2 separate regions of the Homo sapiens genome follow, and region 2 is linked to region 1. A link means that fine-mapping ties the variant in region 1 to the expression of a gene that starts in the linked region. Tissue or cell type: whole blood. Region 1 holds a variant in brackets; the other region holds the start of a gene. All regions are shown on one strand. Distances are from middle to middle.

The links. PIP is the estimated chance that this variant, and not a neighbour inherited with it, causes the effect.
Region 2: DTD1 starts here. The variant in region 1 is fine-mapped to the expression of DTD1 in whole blood (TOPMed, PIP above 0.99).

Annotation. Positions count from the first base shown.
Region 1 is chr20:18,635,286-18,643,394 of GRCh38, forward strand. All of the region lies in intron 4 of DTD1 (D-aminoacyl-tRNA deacylase 1), which reads left to right. It also overlaps the pseudogene DUXAP7. Among named protein-coding and RNA genes, the nearest start is that of DTD1, 51 kb to the left of the region's middle. The variant GC/G (reference allele first, on the strand shown) is at 4,281.
Region 2 is chr20:18,583,685-18,591,793 of GRCh38, forward strand. DTD1 (D-aminoacyl-tRNA deacylase 1) reads left to right here and starts at 4,370. Exons shown (of 6, transcript NM_080820.6): 1 at 4,370-4,431. The coding sequence starts at 4,389. LOC124904878 (a long non-coding RNA gene) reads right to left here and starts at 3,781. Exons shown (of 3, transcript XR_007067547.1): 1 at 3,741-3,781; 2 at 429-560. RefSeq lists enhancers at 1,541-1,835, 4,507-5,006, 4,847-4,906 and a silencer at 4,197-4,736.

The DNA.
Region 1 (8,109 bases):
GTGGGAACTCAGCAAAGCGTCCTCATTACAGAGTTGTTGCTGTTGTGCAGTCTTTGTCAGTGACGCTGACTTCTGGGACGTAGGCTGCCACATGGAAGGCCTCCTACCAGGGCTAGGGCGCCACCTGGCCAGACCTCTCACCACACATGGAATCACCTGGATTTCTGATCCTTTCTGTCTGAGCACCTGCTTTCCATGAATTATGAGATCAGCTCAGCCCTCTGGGGAGTGAGTTGGGTGTAGAGATGGTGGAGCTCCTGACCTCACTCAGCCCAGCCCACTGCTCTGCACAGTCAGAATTTATCCTGAGTCCTTGTCAGTGCCTGGGGGAATGCCTGCCTATTGCATGAATATTTGGTATGAAAGGGTGGGAGCTTAGTAGATGTTTTTCTTCCTGGTGGAGAGCTGTAAGGGATCACTTTTATCACTTTAATTTGTTTCCAAATAGATGGTTGTCCTAAGTCAGCTCATAGTGGGCTTAAAAAGAAGCCTTTACAAGGCTGGCATGACTGTCTCTTTGTTGGGGACCCATTGATGAATTGATTAATCAATTGACTTTCACCTTACCATCTTAAATCCATAGCACAGGTTAAGGAAATTGCAAAAATTGAAAAGAGTTTTTTTCTCTTCTACTGGAATATGTCTGGTAAATTAAAAACTAGGATCTGTTTCTTTTCTACCATTGACACATAAGACATTTCTAATCTCCAACCAGAGCAAAATATCTGTTTTGCTTTAAACCAGTCTCTCAGGACACTAATGGGGTAGTGCATTTAAGGTTTAAGGGCTTTATTTGTTTGTTCCTGTATATGTGTTTTGGGCAGATTCCTAGTTATTTTAATCTTATAATCTCATTTGTGTGTGTGTTAAAAAAAAACGAACTCCTTACCTTGCTGACTTGACCTGCCAAAGATTAACAGCATCCTTTTTATTCTGAAGGGAGAGAGGTAGAGTTTTTCCTTCCATGGATTTATACATTGTGCATAGCAATAATTTAGTTAAACAGACTCAGTATTTTAATTGGGAATTCTTAGCTTGTTAAGTGATTTACCAGGAGCTTCACAGTCCCGGGTAATTGTAGAAAAATGTTCTGCCAGTCAGTGGTGTTTTGCAGAAAACCTTGCCGAAACATTTGCTTTAGTAATGGAGAGAGAATGAAAGATCTGGAAGTGATAGAATTCTAAAAAATGCAGCACTTGCTATACTTTTTTTACAGGCATAGATAAAACCCTTATCTACACAGAGGTGTTTGCCAGCTTGCCGCAGTATAGGTGTAGTCTGTAATGACTGATGAGGTAGTTATCTTTTTTAATCTTAAAGAGAAGGTTAGGATGGGTCAGTGGGGTGTGAGTTGGATCAAGTAGACTCTTAGGGGCTCACAGACTGGCCTGAGCTTATCCCACAAGTTTTGTATGTGTGGATGTGTGCAAGTGCCTTTTGCTGGGAAAAAGGGGACCAGGACTTTTGTCACATTCTCTGGAGGTCCCAAGAAGTGAAGAGGCTGGTGGACTGGGGACTGTTGTGTGCAGAGATTACACATTCTTTCTCTATCAAAGTTATCCAGGGGTTGGTGGTAGTGTTCCTCAAACGGCAGACTGAGGACCACTGGCATCAAGCCACCCATGGTGCTTACTAAAATGCAGGGTCCTGGGCCCACCCAGGTTTTCTGAGCCAGAGTTCCTGGAGTGTCTGGATGAGGAAGGCAGAAGAGTAGCCCATTTATGTTTCTAACCAGGTCTTTGTGTGCTCCTAAGCACACTGACATTTGGGAACTACTGGAATAGAGAGAATCAGGCCTTGCAGTGATCATCTGCTCCAGGTGTTGGTTTCTTCTGGACCACCCTGCCCTCCCTTCCTCACCCCCAACTGTCTAAAAATACTTTACAACCTATGTTACTGCAGCTGCCAGGAAACAAGATGGCTTTGCTTGATTATTGAGGTCACATGTGAGTCTGTTCTTATTCATCAACGAGCCCTCAGTCTCCCAACACCCCTTCCCCCTGCCACACAGGCAGTGATGAAAATGTTTCCAGAATATGGTGCCTTCTCAACGCAATTACAGATGTGTCAGGGAAAAGCCGATGCAGCAACAACAGCTCAATATGTTAGTGACTGATGATCAGCCGCTCTACTGGGTGACATTGAGGCATATGCTGGGGTAATAACTTTTTTCCTAGGAGAGATGAGCCCAACATGTGGATTGCTCAATGAGTGTGCAAGATTGTAGCAGTGTAGCCACTTTAAGACTTGTAGTTGAAAGTAATTTATAGTTTTCTTGGCTTTCTGAGTACCAGACATGGAATGCCTTACTCATCTGTCGAAGTGTTAATGGAACTAGAATAAAAACCCAGGGTGATCGACATCTTAGCCTCTGCATGGAAATTGTAGTTTAATGAAATTCATGAATGTGGAGGCTTCCATGGGCAGTTAGCTGATCATTTACATTTAAACACACATGGGAAATTGTTAAGGGCTCATATTTTATGATGTATTATTACCTATTCAGTTCATGGTAAAAGCTTTTCACAATGAATTGTAGACTAGTTTCCTGCAGATTATTTATTGTTTCATGAATAAGTATCACAATTTTTTCTCCTTTGTGTCTCTGCTCATCCACCTGAAATGAACTCCTTCCCTGTCTCTACCTGCTGACATCTTCCCCATCTTTTAAGGTTCATTTCAGATAGGTAGCTCTTCACACATGATGCTTACCTCAGTGCCCATCCAGGCGAGGCCTTTCTTCCTGCCTTTGGCTCCCCATCACGTGGTGTGGCAAGGATTTCGTAGTGGTAATGCCCTTGAATAAAAAGCTCATGCTCATTTGTTTGTTTGCTTGCTTGTTCATTTATCCATTTATCCATCCACCCATATGTCCCTCCATCTGCCCATCCATCCATCCATCCATCCATCCATCCATCCATCCATCCATCTATCCATCCACTCACCTGTCCACTACCTACTCATCCAATACCTTTATCCAGCAGATTATTATTGGGTGCTTGCTCTGTGCTGGCCCTGCATGTAGGTCCAGCACTGAAACAACATTGTACCCTCATGAAGCTTCCATTCTAGTGGAGAAACAAACAAAAACAAAAACAAGTATAATTTAAAATTCTGATGATATAAAGAAATCAAACAGGGTTAGGTGTAGAGAATGCTGTTGGCTAGAAGTCCCCTTAGGTGCAAGCGCTAGGGAAGGATGCTGAGATAAGAGGGAGCCAGTGAAGACTGAAGGAAGAGTGCCAGACAGAGGGGTCAGCAGATGCAGAGCTCTAGGGTGACTGGTGGAAGAAAGGCCAGTGTGGCTGGAGCTTGGAGGGTGACAGGGAGAGGGGCAGAACCTGAGGCCAGAGCTGTGACCTGGGGTTGATGGAACAAGGCCTCATGGGCCAAGGTAAGGAATTTGGCTTTTATTGTTAGTAAGCCAAAGACCTGTTAGAATGTTGAGAGCTCTGATTTGTGTTTGCAGAGATGGATGAGACTGGGTTTAGTGTAGGCTCAGGATCGGGGGATGTGTGGCTTGTGACAGGGTGGCAGAGAGGGCATTTAGGAGCTGTGGAAAGATTCTGGATACACTTTGGAGGCCCTCAACCACTCTCATATTCTGCCTTCCACAGTAGAGCTTTTCTGTCAGTGACTCATGTTTGGTTCTTTCATACTGTGGCTTGAGCATTAGAGAGTAATATTGTAAAGTTCAACCTCCCACAGTTCACTGCAGGAATGACCCCATTCTTGCCTCCAAGGCCAGCATGGTGGAGGGATTCCATGGCATGAGTTTCTATGATGACATCAGACATTGGACATCAAGGAGTGCGATGCTCACCCCTGGTTTTTAGTGATCCTTGGGCACAGTCTGGACACAAAAGCCAGAACTTGTTTGATGGTTTTTTTTTTAAGAAAAAAAAAAAAAAAAGCAAGCAAGTTCAGGGAAGCAGTCTCCTTTTTCCTGGTCAACATGAAGCCAAGTGTTTCACTATTGCCCAGTTTTCCCCCAAATACAAAAACATTAATTTTAAAAAGATACTGTAAAAAGCCCAAGAAACATGTATATTGAATTTGATTTATGTATACTATTGTAGCTAATATTTTCAGGGAAATTTCTAAATGTCTGTCATAGGAGCTTGTCAGAAAAAGAAAGATTTATTTTTGGAAAAGTATGTTTCCTGGTGTTCATTGAGCTTGGAAATTATGGAAAGTCATTGTCAGAAGGGAGGCAGCTGCTCCAGAGGCGGAGTGGAAGTCAGGACTGGAGAAGGTTGTCCTACTGTGGGCTCCAGCGT[GC/G]CTCTTGCTGCTAGCTGGTCAAGAGTCTCGCAGCAGCCACTTTATACCTCACTAGCTCCACCATCGCAATTATTTCTGTCAAAACGAAACACAAAAGAATGGCATGTCTATGAATATTCTTCACAGAAAATATATTCGTTTGACTATTTTCCATAAAATGTGAAGTCAATTTCTTTTTCTATTTTTAATCATGAAAGTGAAGCCCGGAAGCCTCAATTTCTTTGTAATGGAAAGATCTGAGTTTGTGGCCTTGTTTCCATTTTCCACTTCTCCTTTGCTAAGTCAGGAACATGATACTCACATAATATCCCCCGGGCAGTGGCTCTGTTCAGGAATTGCATGGCTGTTTGACTGCAGAGGGAGGGCAAAGGCTATTATTAACCATTCGTGTCATTGTTGGGTCATGAAACCTTCAGGGGATAAGTATAAGTTCTATAAAATTTCATTTTGAAATCCAGACCAGATCTGGCCTTATGCTCTGAGGATTTTTTTTTTTTTTTAAGTTTCATGTTGTCCCTTTGCCCCCCTTCATTTTCTCTTGGGAAGAGTCTCTTATTATCATAATTACTACTTGAAAAAAAATTCCAAGCAAGAAAGCAGTGTATTAACTGGAAAGTAACAATTTAGAAATGTTATTTTTTAATAGTAAGCTTTTATAGTATTCCTGGGTAGAAAGGTATTTTTATAGAAACAGTTATTTTCCTATCTTTTTTCTCATGAGTCCATAAAATAGCATTTTTATATCAATTTTTGTTATATCTAATACATAAAATCAGTATTCTTTTAAGAATTTAGAAGTTTAAGATACACTAAAAATATTTTTGACAATAACTCTCATTCTCAGAGGTAGCGCCGTTAATAAGTTCTATGTATTTACTTCCAGACTTAACAAAAATATGTTTACCCACATTTACACATGGTATCTCTGGGTGGGTATATGTCAGAAGATTTTTTTAAATTGTGTTTAATTATACATAACCTAAAATTTTTAGGTATACAGTTTCGTGGCATTAGTATATTCACATTGTTATGCAACTTTTATTATCACCATCTATCTGCAGAATTTTTTTTTTTTTTTTTTTAAGACGGAGTCTCGCTCTGTCACCCAGGCTGGAGTACAGTGGAGTGATCTCAGCTCACTGCAACCTCCATCTCCCAGATTCAAGCAATTCTCCTGCCTCAGCCTCCCGAGTAGCTGGGATTACAGGCATGCGTCACCGTGCCTGACTAATTTTTGTATTTTTAGTAGAGATGAGGTTTCACCATGTTGGCCAGGCTGATCTCAAACTCCTGACCTCAAGTGATCTACCCGCTTCGGCCTCCCAAAGTGCTGGGATTACAGGTGTGAGCCACTGCTCCCAGCCTATCTACAGAATTCTTTTTATCTTACAAAACTGAAACTTTACCCTTAAGTAGTAATTCCCGATTCTCTTCTCCCTTCAGCCACTGGCAACGGCCCTTCTATAATACTTTCTGCCTTTTGAATTTGACCACTCTGAGTATCATATGAATAATCATATGGTATTTGTCCCTTTGTGACTGGCTTATGTCACTTAGCATAATTTCTTCAAGATTCATCCATGTTGAGCCTTATGTTCATAGCATGTGTCAGAGTTTTCTTTTTATGGCCACAGAATATTCTCTTGTATACCGTATTTTGTCTATCCATTCGTTTATCCATGCACACTTGGGTTGTTTCCACTTTTTCATTATTGTGAATAGCGCTGCTGTTAACATTGGTGTACCAATATCTCTTCAAGACCCTGCTTTTAATTCCTCTGGGTAAATACCTAGGTACAGGTTGTGGATCATATGGTAGTTCTTTGTTTAATTTTTTGAGGAACCACTATACTGTTTTCCACAGCGTCTGTACCATTTTACATTCCTACCGGCAATGCTCAAGGGTTCTGATTTCCCCACATCCTCACCAACATTTGCTGTTTTGTATGTGTGTTTGTGTGTGTGTGTGTGTGTGTTTTCTGATACTGGTCATCCTAATAAGTGTGAAGTGTATCTCATTGTGGTTTTGATTTACGTTTCTCTAATGATTAGTGATGTTGAGCATCTTTTCATGTGCTCCTTGGCCATTTGTATATCTTCTTTGGAGATCTATTTCAGTTCTTTGCCCAGTTTTGAATTGCTTTGTGTTTTTTTTATTGTTGAATTGCAGAAGTTCTTTATGTATTCTGTGTATTAATTTCTTAACAGATAGATGATCTGCAAATATTTTCTCTCATCCTGTGGATTACCTTTTCACTCTGTTGGTGGTGTTTTCTGATGTACAGAAGTTTTTAATTCTGATGAAATCCAATTCGTCTGTTTTTGCTTTTGTTGCCTGTGCTTTTGATATTATATCCAAGAAATCATTGCCAAATCTAAATCATGAAGCTTTTTCTTTATGTTTTCTTCTGAGAGTTTTATAGTTTTAGCTTTTACATTTAGATATTTGATCCATTTTGAGTTAGTTTTAGTATATGGTATAAGGTGTATGATGTTTTTACTTGCAGACAGGTTGGGAGACCAGTATCAGGGACTTTATTTTCTGAAATCACTTGAGAGTAAGTTGTTGGCCTGATGCCTTCTCACCCTTGAATTCATTAGTATCTTTCCTGCAAACAGGGACATTCTCTTATAGAAGCCCCAAAACAGCTGTCAAAATCAGAAAATTAGCATTGACATTTTACTAGCAGCCATCTTCAGCCTCCATAATTTACCAGTTATCCCAAGGAGGTCTTTTATTACTATTATTATTAAGTTTATTTTCATTGTCTCAAGGTCTGCTGAACTCTGGATCCAGGCTGTGTCAGTAGGGTAGTGTGATGCCTCTTGTACCTATCTCTGCCTCCTACAGTTCTTTTTATTTATTTTATTTTATTTTTTATCATAGAGACAGGGTCTTGCTGTGCTGCTCAGGCTGGTTTCAATCTCCTGGGCTCAAGCAATATTCCTACCTCTGCCTCCCAAAGTGCTGAGATTACAAGTATGAGCCACCGCACCTGGCCAAGTTGTTTACCCTCTTCAGAAGGCTTAGCTTGCAGTTTCAGCAGAAGGATCGACTCCCAGGAAGACCGTGAGAGAGATTTGGGACCCAAGTTGATAATACTAAATACACTGAACTTGAGTGTTTTCACCATGTTCTGGCTCTAGGGAAGTGACAGTTGCTAGTGAGGTTGGTGCTATTGTATGTGTCTTCTGTACCTTGAAGTCCCTCAGAGATCTTGCCCCTGGTCTTCTTGTTCTAAGGACACAACAGGTTCCCTTTTTCTCTGAAGATGAAATCTAGATCTTTGATTTTGGAACCAAATTTGGACTCTTGACTCTGGAGCACCAATTTCTTTCTTTCTTTTCTTTTCTTTTATTTTTTTTGAGACAGAGTTTCGCTCTTGTTGCCCAGACTGGAGTTCAATGGTGCGATCTCTGCTCACCGCAACCTCTGCCTCTTGGGTTCAAGAGATTCTCCCGCCTCAGCCTCCCCAGTAGCTGGGATTGCAGGCATGTGCCACCATGCCCGGCTAATTTTGTATTTTTAGTAGAGATGGGGTTTCTCCATGTTGGTCAGGCTGGTTTCGAACTCCTGACCTCAGGTGATCCACCCGCCTCAGCCTCCCAAAGTGTTGGGATTACAGTTGTGAGCCACTATGCCCAGCCTGGAGCACCAATTTATTTAGCAATTTGTTCTCTGGAATCAATCCCAGGGTATGGGTTTTTCATAAATGCCTTGTTGAGAGTGCGTAGTTGAGAGGTGCTGTAGGTAGTACGACACCGTCTGGCTTCTCTACCAGGTTGATCTTGCTTATGGCTCTGGCTTGACTCTAAAGTCTCAGGTCT
Region 2 (8,109 bases), 52 kb before region 1:
ATAGAAAAAATTGTTTAGGGGAATTACAATGCATATATTAGCTCTTAGCATCTGCACATCTATTAATAGAGAAATACTGTAAATCCATGATACACTGTTAAGCCAAAAAATTGGCTTCTCACACTTATTCCTTTGGCAATATTACCTGAGCCCCAGGTACTGTGTTAGATGCTGAGGATTCAGTGGTAAGCATGAGAGACACAGGTAGAAGAACACAGCTTACCAGGCAAATAGACTCATTGAAAGTAGCCAGAAGATTATGAGAGAAAACCCACAGGACAAACATGAGAAAAACAGGGAGCAGGAACACCTACTTTTCTTGGTGTGGACAGAGAAGGTCTATCTGAGGAGGTGGCATTGAAGCTGAATACCTAAAGGCAGGAGAGGAGTGTGTTGTACAAAGAGTGAATGAATGTAGAGGAACCTACCTGTTCCAGGTGGAGCAAGAGCAGATCCTAAAGTCCTGAGCTAGCAACCAAAGACTATTTGAGGAATTTAAAGGTGGTCAGAGTCTGGATTGTTAAGACTTTATATTCTAAGAGCATCACTTTCATCTGTGCCTGGAGAATGGATTGGAGAAGGACAAAGGGGAGGTAGGAAGACCAGTGAGGAAGGTGTGGTAGAAATCCAAGTGGGAAAGAATGGTGGAGCAGGATGCTGCAGGAGGGATGGAGAGAAGAGGGCACTTTGGGATAGGTTTTGGAGAGGGAGAAGATTTGCTGATGGACGAGATACTTAGGGAATGGGGAAGAGAGCAATCACAGGTTACTTCTGGCTCCAGTAAACAAGTGGAGCCACTTATTTAAGTGGGGATTTTCCAGGTGCGATGGCCCATGCCTGTAATCCCAGCACTTTGGGAGGCCACGGCAGGCGGATTACTTGAGGTGAGGAGTTTGAGAACAGCCTGGCCAACATGGTGAAACCCCATCTCTACTAAAAATACAAAAATTAGCTGGGCATGGTGGCAGCACCTGTAATCCCAGCTACTCAGAAGTCTGAGGCAGGAGAATCACTTGAGCCTGGAAGGTGGAGGTTGCAGTGAGCCAGAACGAGCCATTGCACTCCAGCCTGGGTGACAGAGCGAGACTCTGTCTCCAAAAAAAAAAAAAAAAAAAAAGGTATGACTCTTATGGTGGAGTATGAAGGGCTTCGGGGTTCATTGAACACCAACTGGTGAATTGCAGTTCAACTCTGGCAGGAATCACCTGGAGTTAGAACAGATCCTGCAAGTTTAAGGGTACGTTTCCCAAAAAGATTGCCCCTATTTCAGGTGCCAACCACACTTGGGTGTCCCCAAACCACTTGCACTTCAGACCAACTGGCTACACAGTCAGGAGTATCCATGACTCCCTAGGGTTGATAATGCACTAGAATCACTCATGGAACTGAGGAAAGTGCTGTAATTATCATTTATAGTTTTATTATAAATAATACAAATTAGGACCAGTCAAATGAGATATGTTAGGCAAGGTCTGCGAGAGTACCAAACACAGAGCCTCTGTGCTTTCTCCCTGCGGAATCAGGGCCATTACCCTCCCAGCACATCAATGTGTTCAGCAACCAGGAAGCTCAATGAAGCTTCAATGTCCAGAGTCTTTCCTGGGATTTCATCATGTAAGCATGACTGATTGAATCATTGGCCACAGGTTGAACTCAATCTCTGTCTTCTACCCCTCCCACAGGTTGGGCTGGCTCAGACATCCAGTCACTATTGGTCTTTCCAGTGACCAGCTCCCAATCTGAATTGTCTTGTTAGTAAACTCAGGAATAATCAAGGAGCTCATGAATAACAAAGATACTCCTGTCTCTTGAGAAATTCCAAGAATTTTTAAAGCTCCATGCCAGAAACCCAGAATTAACAAAGGCCAAAGTCTTTATTGTACCATAGGGGTGAACATTTTGAATTCCATTTTAAGTATGTTAACTTTTTTTTTTTTTTTTGAGACACAGGTTTACTTTGTCACCCAGGCTGGAGTGCAGTGGCAGTGATCCTGGCTCACTGCAACCTCCGCCTCTCGGTTTCAAGTGATTCCTGTGCCTCAGCCTCCCAAGTAGCTGGGATTATAGGTGCCCACCATCACGCCTGGCTAATTTTTGTATTTTTAGTAGAGATGGGGTTTCACCATGTTGGCCAGGCTGGTCTTGAACTCCTGACCTCAAGTGATCCACCTGCCTCAGCCTCCCAAAGTGCTGGAATTACAGGCGTGAACCACCACGACCAGCCCAATTTTCCCTTTTTTAGTCTTATTCTTTCAGGAGTGCACAATGGAGTTTTCCAGGGGCTCCGTGACATATAGTGACTTCATTGCTCTGATATTCATATGTAGGGGATTTATTATTGCTATTTTTAAATGCATTGATAAATCCATGTTAACTATTTCTCTTAGTTAAAAACAGTAAACATTTTTAGATATAATCCACCTAAACAAAAGCTATACTTTGTGCCCAATAATTTTTAAGAATGTAAAGGGATCCTGTGATCAAAATATTGAGACCTGCTGATTTTTCAAAAACTCAAATTTTACCAGTTGTTCCAATAATAAGCTTTTCCTTTTCTTGATTTTTCTGGCCAGGATACCACCCAGGTTAATTTAGTTTTCCTGTCTTTTTTTTTTTTTTTTTTTTTTTTGAGACAGAGTCTTGCTTTGTCACCCAGGCTGGAGTGCAGTGGCACGATATCGGCTCACCGTAACCTCCGCCTCCCGGGTTCAAGCAATTTTCTTGCCTCAGCCTCCCGAGTAGCTGGGATTACAGGCATGCGCTGCCATGCCTGGCTAATTTTTGTATTTTTAGTAGAGACGGGGTTTCACCATGTTGGCCAGGCAGGCCTCGAACTCCTGACCTCCAATGATCCGCCCACCTTGACCTCCCAAAGTGCTGGGATTACAGGTAGTTTTCCTGTCTTTTAAAAAGTCCACGGCTGGGCGCAGTGGCTCATGCCTGTAATCCCAGCACTTTGGGAGGCCAAAGCGGGCAGATCACCTGAGGTCGGGAGTTCGAGACCAGCCTGACCAACATGGAGAAATCTCATCTTTAATAAAAATACAAAATTAGCCGGGCGTGGCGGCGCATGCTTGTAATCCCAGCTACTCAGGAGGTTGAGGCAGAAGAATTGCTTGAACCCAGGAGGCAGAAGTTGTGGATAGCCAAGATCACACCATTGCACTTCAGCCTGGGCCACAAGAGCAAAACTGCATCTCAAAAAAAAAAAAAAAAAAAATCCTCCTTAATTCTCGGAATCCTACCTGGTTATTTTGTAGAATGTTCCTCAATTTATTTTTGTCCTATGTTTCATCATGATTGGATTCAGGTTATACATTATTTGGCAGAAATACCACAAGATTGATGTTGTGTCCTTCCCAGTGCAATATCAGGAGGCACATGATGTCTTGTTACTGGTTATGTTAACTTTGACAACGTTATTAAGGCAATTTAGTATTCAGTATTTAACAAACAAGCACACTAGTTTGTAGTCTTTTCTGGGCAAGTGAGGGTTTCTTCTCAATTTCAGTGCCTTTTCTACGCCCACCAATGCTATTAGTCACCTTTAAGGTGAAGACTGCTGAGATGGAATTATTTTTAGCAATGATAATAATTTGTTGGGGTAATAGTTGTACAGCCCTTTGCTGCCATCTAAGCACTTTTACGTGGTTTGGTTCATTTAAATCTAACAACCCAGTGAGGGGGCCAATTAGTAGCATTTATATTACATGAGAAATTAGAATTCTAGAATCACATACCTATTTATTATCATGACATGGCTAAGTCGAATTAATAGTGAGATAGGTAAATGGCTATTTTAGGCAGCAGATCCTTTTGTATGTGGTATCTGAAAAGCCACTGAGGCAGGAAGACAAGGAAGAAGAATTTGGGAGGATCTGCGTGCAGAGGAGTGGAAGAGGAAAGAGGAATACAATTAGAAATAGGATTCAGGCTGAATTTAAAGGCTTAGTGATGACGGGTTCTTAGGTTCGGGTATGTGGGAGAAAAAAACCAGCATAGAGACTACCTTCGGGGCAGAGTGGGTTCTGGGCACTGGGTAGGGGCTGGGCCCGGGATGGGGGGATCAAAGGGCTCTGGCGGGACCCAGATGTGGATGGGGCAGGGCCGAGCGTGGGGACTGGGCTTTTCAATGACGGGCGGGGTTACGGTTGGGCAGCAGGTGGGCGTGGCAGGCATAGGCGGAGTCAATCTATGAGTGGGTGGGCCTATCGCCAGGCCGAGAGTGGGCGTGGCCGACGTGGGGTGGGTAGCAGCCGACCGAGTCGGACCGGCCAGTTGGGCGCGCTTCCGGGTGTCACCTCCAGAGGGCGCCGGCTGCGGAGCCGCCCTCAGAGTCGCGAGGCCGGACGCAGCGCGGCGCCGCCCCACTCGCCCCAGCCGCCGCCATGAAGGCCGTGGTGCAGCGCGTCACCCGGGCCAGCGTCACAGGTCAGTCGGGCGGGGCCGGGCCCGGGAGGAGCCGCCCCTGACCCCCGCGACCGGCTGTCTTGCGTGGGGGGTCTTCCTGCGCCATCCTTGGGGCCGCTGCGGCCCCTCCGCGAGCCTGGTCCCCTTCGCGAGCTCGGTCCGCGCAGCCGCGAGTCCCCAGGGCCGGCTTCGGGGCAGCGCGGCGGCCGGAGAGCCCCCTGCACGTGCCCGACCGGCCCCGGCGCGCCCCTGGCTTCCGGCTCTCGGCAGAGGGTGCAGGACCAGCGCGCCTCATTCTCAGCACCTTTGTCCTGCGTGCGGGATGGCGGAGCCTCGGAGCATCTCCGTGGTCCGCTCTTCAGGGAGTGTTGATGAACCACGCTTAGAGCATTTCCGGAGCAGGCACTCCTCCCTTTTCACTGCTGTATTTTAAATGTTCAATTTTTGCCCATTTTTACGTATTCCAATTTTTATGGGGCTTGACTCAGGATGAAATGCACAGATGCGGAGAGTTGCTCCTTGGGCTGAGCTTTGACAGTTGCGTGCACGTACGTGACTGGAGCCTAGGCTGGATGAGGGGCGCCCCCTGCCCAGGACGCCCCTCGCCCTCGCCCGCTGAACTCTGCGCGGAGGGGTCGGGATCTAAAGAATTCAAGATGAAAACATTTCTCTTTTTCTTGTGGACCAAGCTACCCGACCCCTGGTCATCACTCAGCACTTTCGTCTCGGTTGGGCATCAGAGGTCCAGATGATTAGTGTAGATAAAGTAGTCGTTTTAAGAAAACCACGGTACGAAAGATATTTTTTAAAAAACATTTAAATGACAAGCTTTATATTGTCTTTAGTCTTTTCTGTCTTTATTGGCACAACTATATTGTTTCAGTTCAAATAATTTCAGATATCCTGTCCTTGGAGCCAGTCTGCACCAAATATGCGTTCTTGTGTCCACAAAAGTATGAATTAAAAACAAAACAGGCCGGGGGCTGTGGCTCACACCTGTAATCCCAGCTCTTTGGGAGGCCAAGGCGGGCAGATCACCTGAGGCCAGGAGTTCGAGACCAGCCTGGCCAACATAGAGAAACCCTATCTCTACTACAAATACAAAAATTAGCCGGGAGCGGTGGTTGGTGCCTATAATCCCAGCTACTCGGGAGGCTGAGGTAGGAGAATCGCTTGAACCCGGGAGGCAGAGGTTGCAGTGAGCCGAGATTGTGCCAGTAACCTCCAGCCTGGGCGACAGAGCGAGACTCTGTCTCAAAAAACAACAAACAAACAAAACCCCAAAACAAAAAACAAAACAAAACAAAAACAACAAAAAACCCTAAAGAAACAACCAAACCCACCAAAACCGTATATTTAAATCTAAGAGTCTATTTTTCAACCCCGCCTAATGATTTCTAAGCTGTTCTGGTAGCTTTGGTTTTGGAAATGGTCCTGGAATAATAGGGAATAGAGTAGCACTGGGATTTAGGAATTTTAAAGCTTTTATAACATTTCTGTAGATATTTAAATTCATGAAAACTGGGAAAATTCATAGATGAAAGATGTTTTGCATTATTGAGAAGAACCTTGCAGTCTGCTGCTGTGTGTGGTCGTCACTGACAGATTTAAATTTTGATCTCTCTCCTGAACTCTCCATCCTGCTAATCTGGAATATTGAAAATGTGTATTCTGTGAGATGTGCTGAATAAGAGTTTGGGTTATTTTGGTTCACTATTTAAGTTATATGCTTTCAGTTAAAACAACCAAACCTGCATATTAAAAAAGATAAGGGTGTTAATTATGGGAAAGTGTAAATAATTCGGGAATTCTGGGTTGGGGAACTGTGGAATTCTGTTAGAAGGGCCCTCCACTTATGCAGGCCTTCTAGTTGCATTGTAATGGAAAGGGATTTTCTGATTCCTTTAAAATGTGGCTGGTTTCACTGAAATGTGGCTGTGTTTGAATGGCATTTTATTTTAGGGGTTCTAAAATGTTAACTTCCTGTTTTATGGTCAGGACAGCATAGATTATCAGGAGTCACACATTTTATTTTATTTTAAAATAGTTGGTTGACTTCACATTTATTTTAAATTTATGCATTTATGGTTTGTTTGTTTTAGAGATGGGGTCTTGCTCTGTCACCCAGGCTGGAGTGCAGTGGCACTATTATAGCTTACTACAACCTCAAACGCTTGGGCTCAAGTGATCCTTTAGTTTCAGCATCCTGAGTAGTTAGACTACAGGCGTGTGCCGCCACCGCTATGTCCAGCTTAGGAGTCACACATTTTACTATGTGGTATATTCAATTTATGTGATTGGTCAAACACATTTTTTTTTATAGTAACCCTGTAATATCATTTGATGCCCAGTCCATCAGATTTCTCCAATTGGCTAATTGGTTTTGTTTTTGTTTTGAGAGAGTCTTGCTCTGTTGCCGAGGCTGGAGTACAGTGGTGCCATCTCTGATCACTGCAGCCTCTGCCTCCTGGGTTCAAGCGATTCTCATGCCTCTGTGTCCTGAGTAGCTGGTCTTACAGGTGCGCGCCACTGTGCCTGGCTAATTTTTTTGTATTTTTAGTGGAGACAGGGTTTTGCCATGTTGACTAGGCTGGTCTCAAATTCCTGGCCTCAAGTGATTTGCCTGCCTCGGCTTCCCAAAGTGCTGGGATTACAGGCATGAGCCACTGCACCCAGCTTGATCAAACACATTTTGATGCCTTAGGTTGGGTACTGTGATAATCTAATTTTTAAAAGTTTATTATGGCACATTTCAAACATATTAACAGACGGAATAGGGCAATAACCCCCATGTCCCATCATTCATTGTCAGCAGCTAAAATTTGATGTCTGTGAACAGTGTTGGAAGAGGATCTAAAATGTTTGGGTTTAACTAGGTTAACTTCAAAGGTTATGAATTCTTGAAGTAGAGATCTCAGGTCTGATGCCACTAGTAGGTAGAAAAATTGACCAAACATCTCAGTCTTTTCCAGCCCTTTGATCTTTTGTTCAAAGTGGTGATTCTCAGATTTTTTCCCTTGGTGATCCATTTACTTATAATAAAAAATCCTTTTGAATCTCCTAGTCCTTCTACTTGTCCCTGGAGGGGGGACAAAACTGCTCCAAAATAAGACAGCAGTCTCTGTGTCATATATAGACTTTGGGCCATAATTTGTTTCATGTTAAGATAATTATAAAACTGTCAAAATTCTTTGACAGTGATTCTAGAATCTAAGCAGATAATCCTAACTGTAGAAAAGGCTTTAGTGTACGAAGATTTTCACTACACTGTTATTTACTGAGGTGAAAATTTTGAAAGAAGCCATATGTCCAGCAAGATGGAATGGTTAATCAGTCTACTTGATGAGCTGAATCTATTAAAAGGTGTTTAGGAAAAGGTTATGACATGAAAAAATTCTTATGCAATATTATTATAAAAATTTATATGCAATGTTATTATAGTAGTTGAAAACAAATATGAATTAAAATGTATGAATAGATACAATATTAAAAGGAAATCATTAAAATATTAAAGTACTTACCTTTGTTCTTTTTTTCATGTTTCTCATATTTTCTAAAATATATAATCCTTACTTTGATGATAGATATAACTTCATGACCTTTATTTTTTAAAACATACTTTGGGAAAAATTTAGAAAGTATATCAATATTGTAAGAAAGTAATGTTGATTTATTCAAAGAACAAATAAAGCCAAAGGC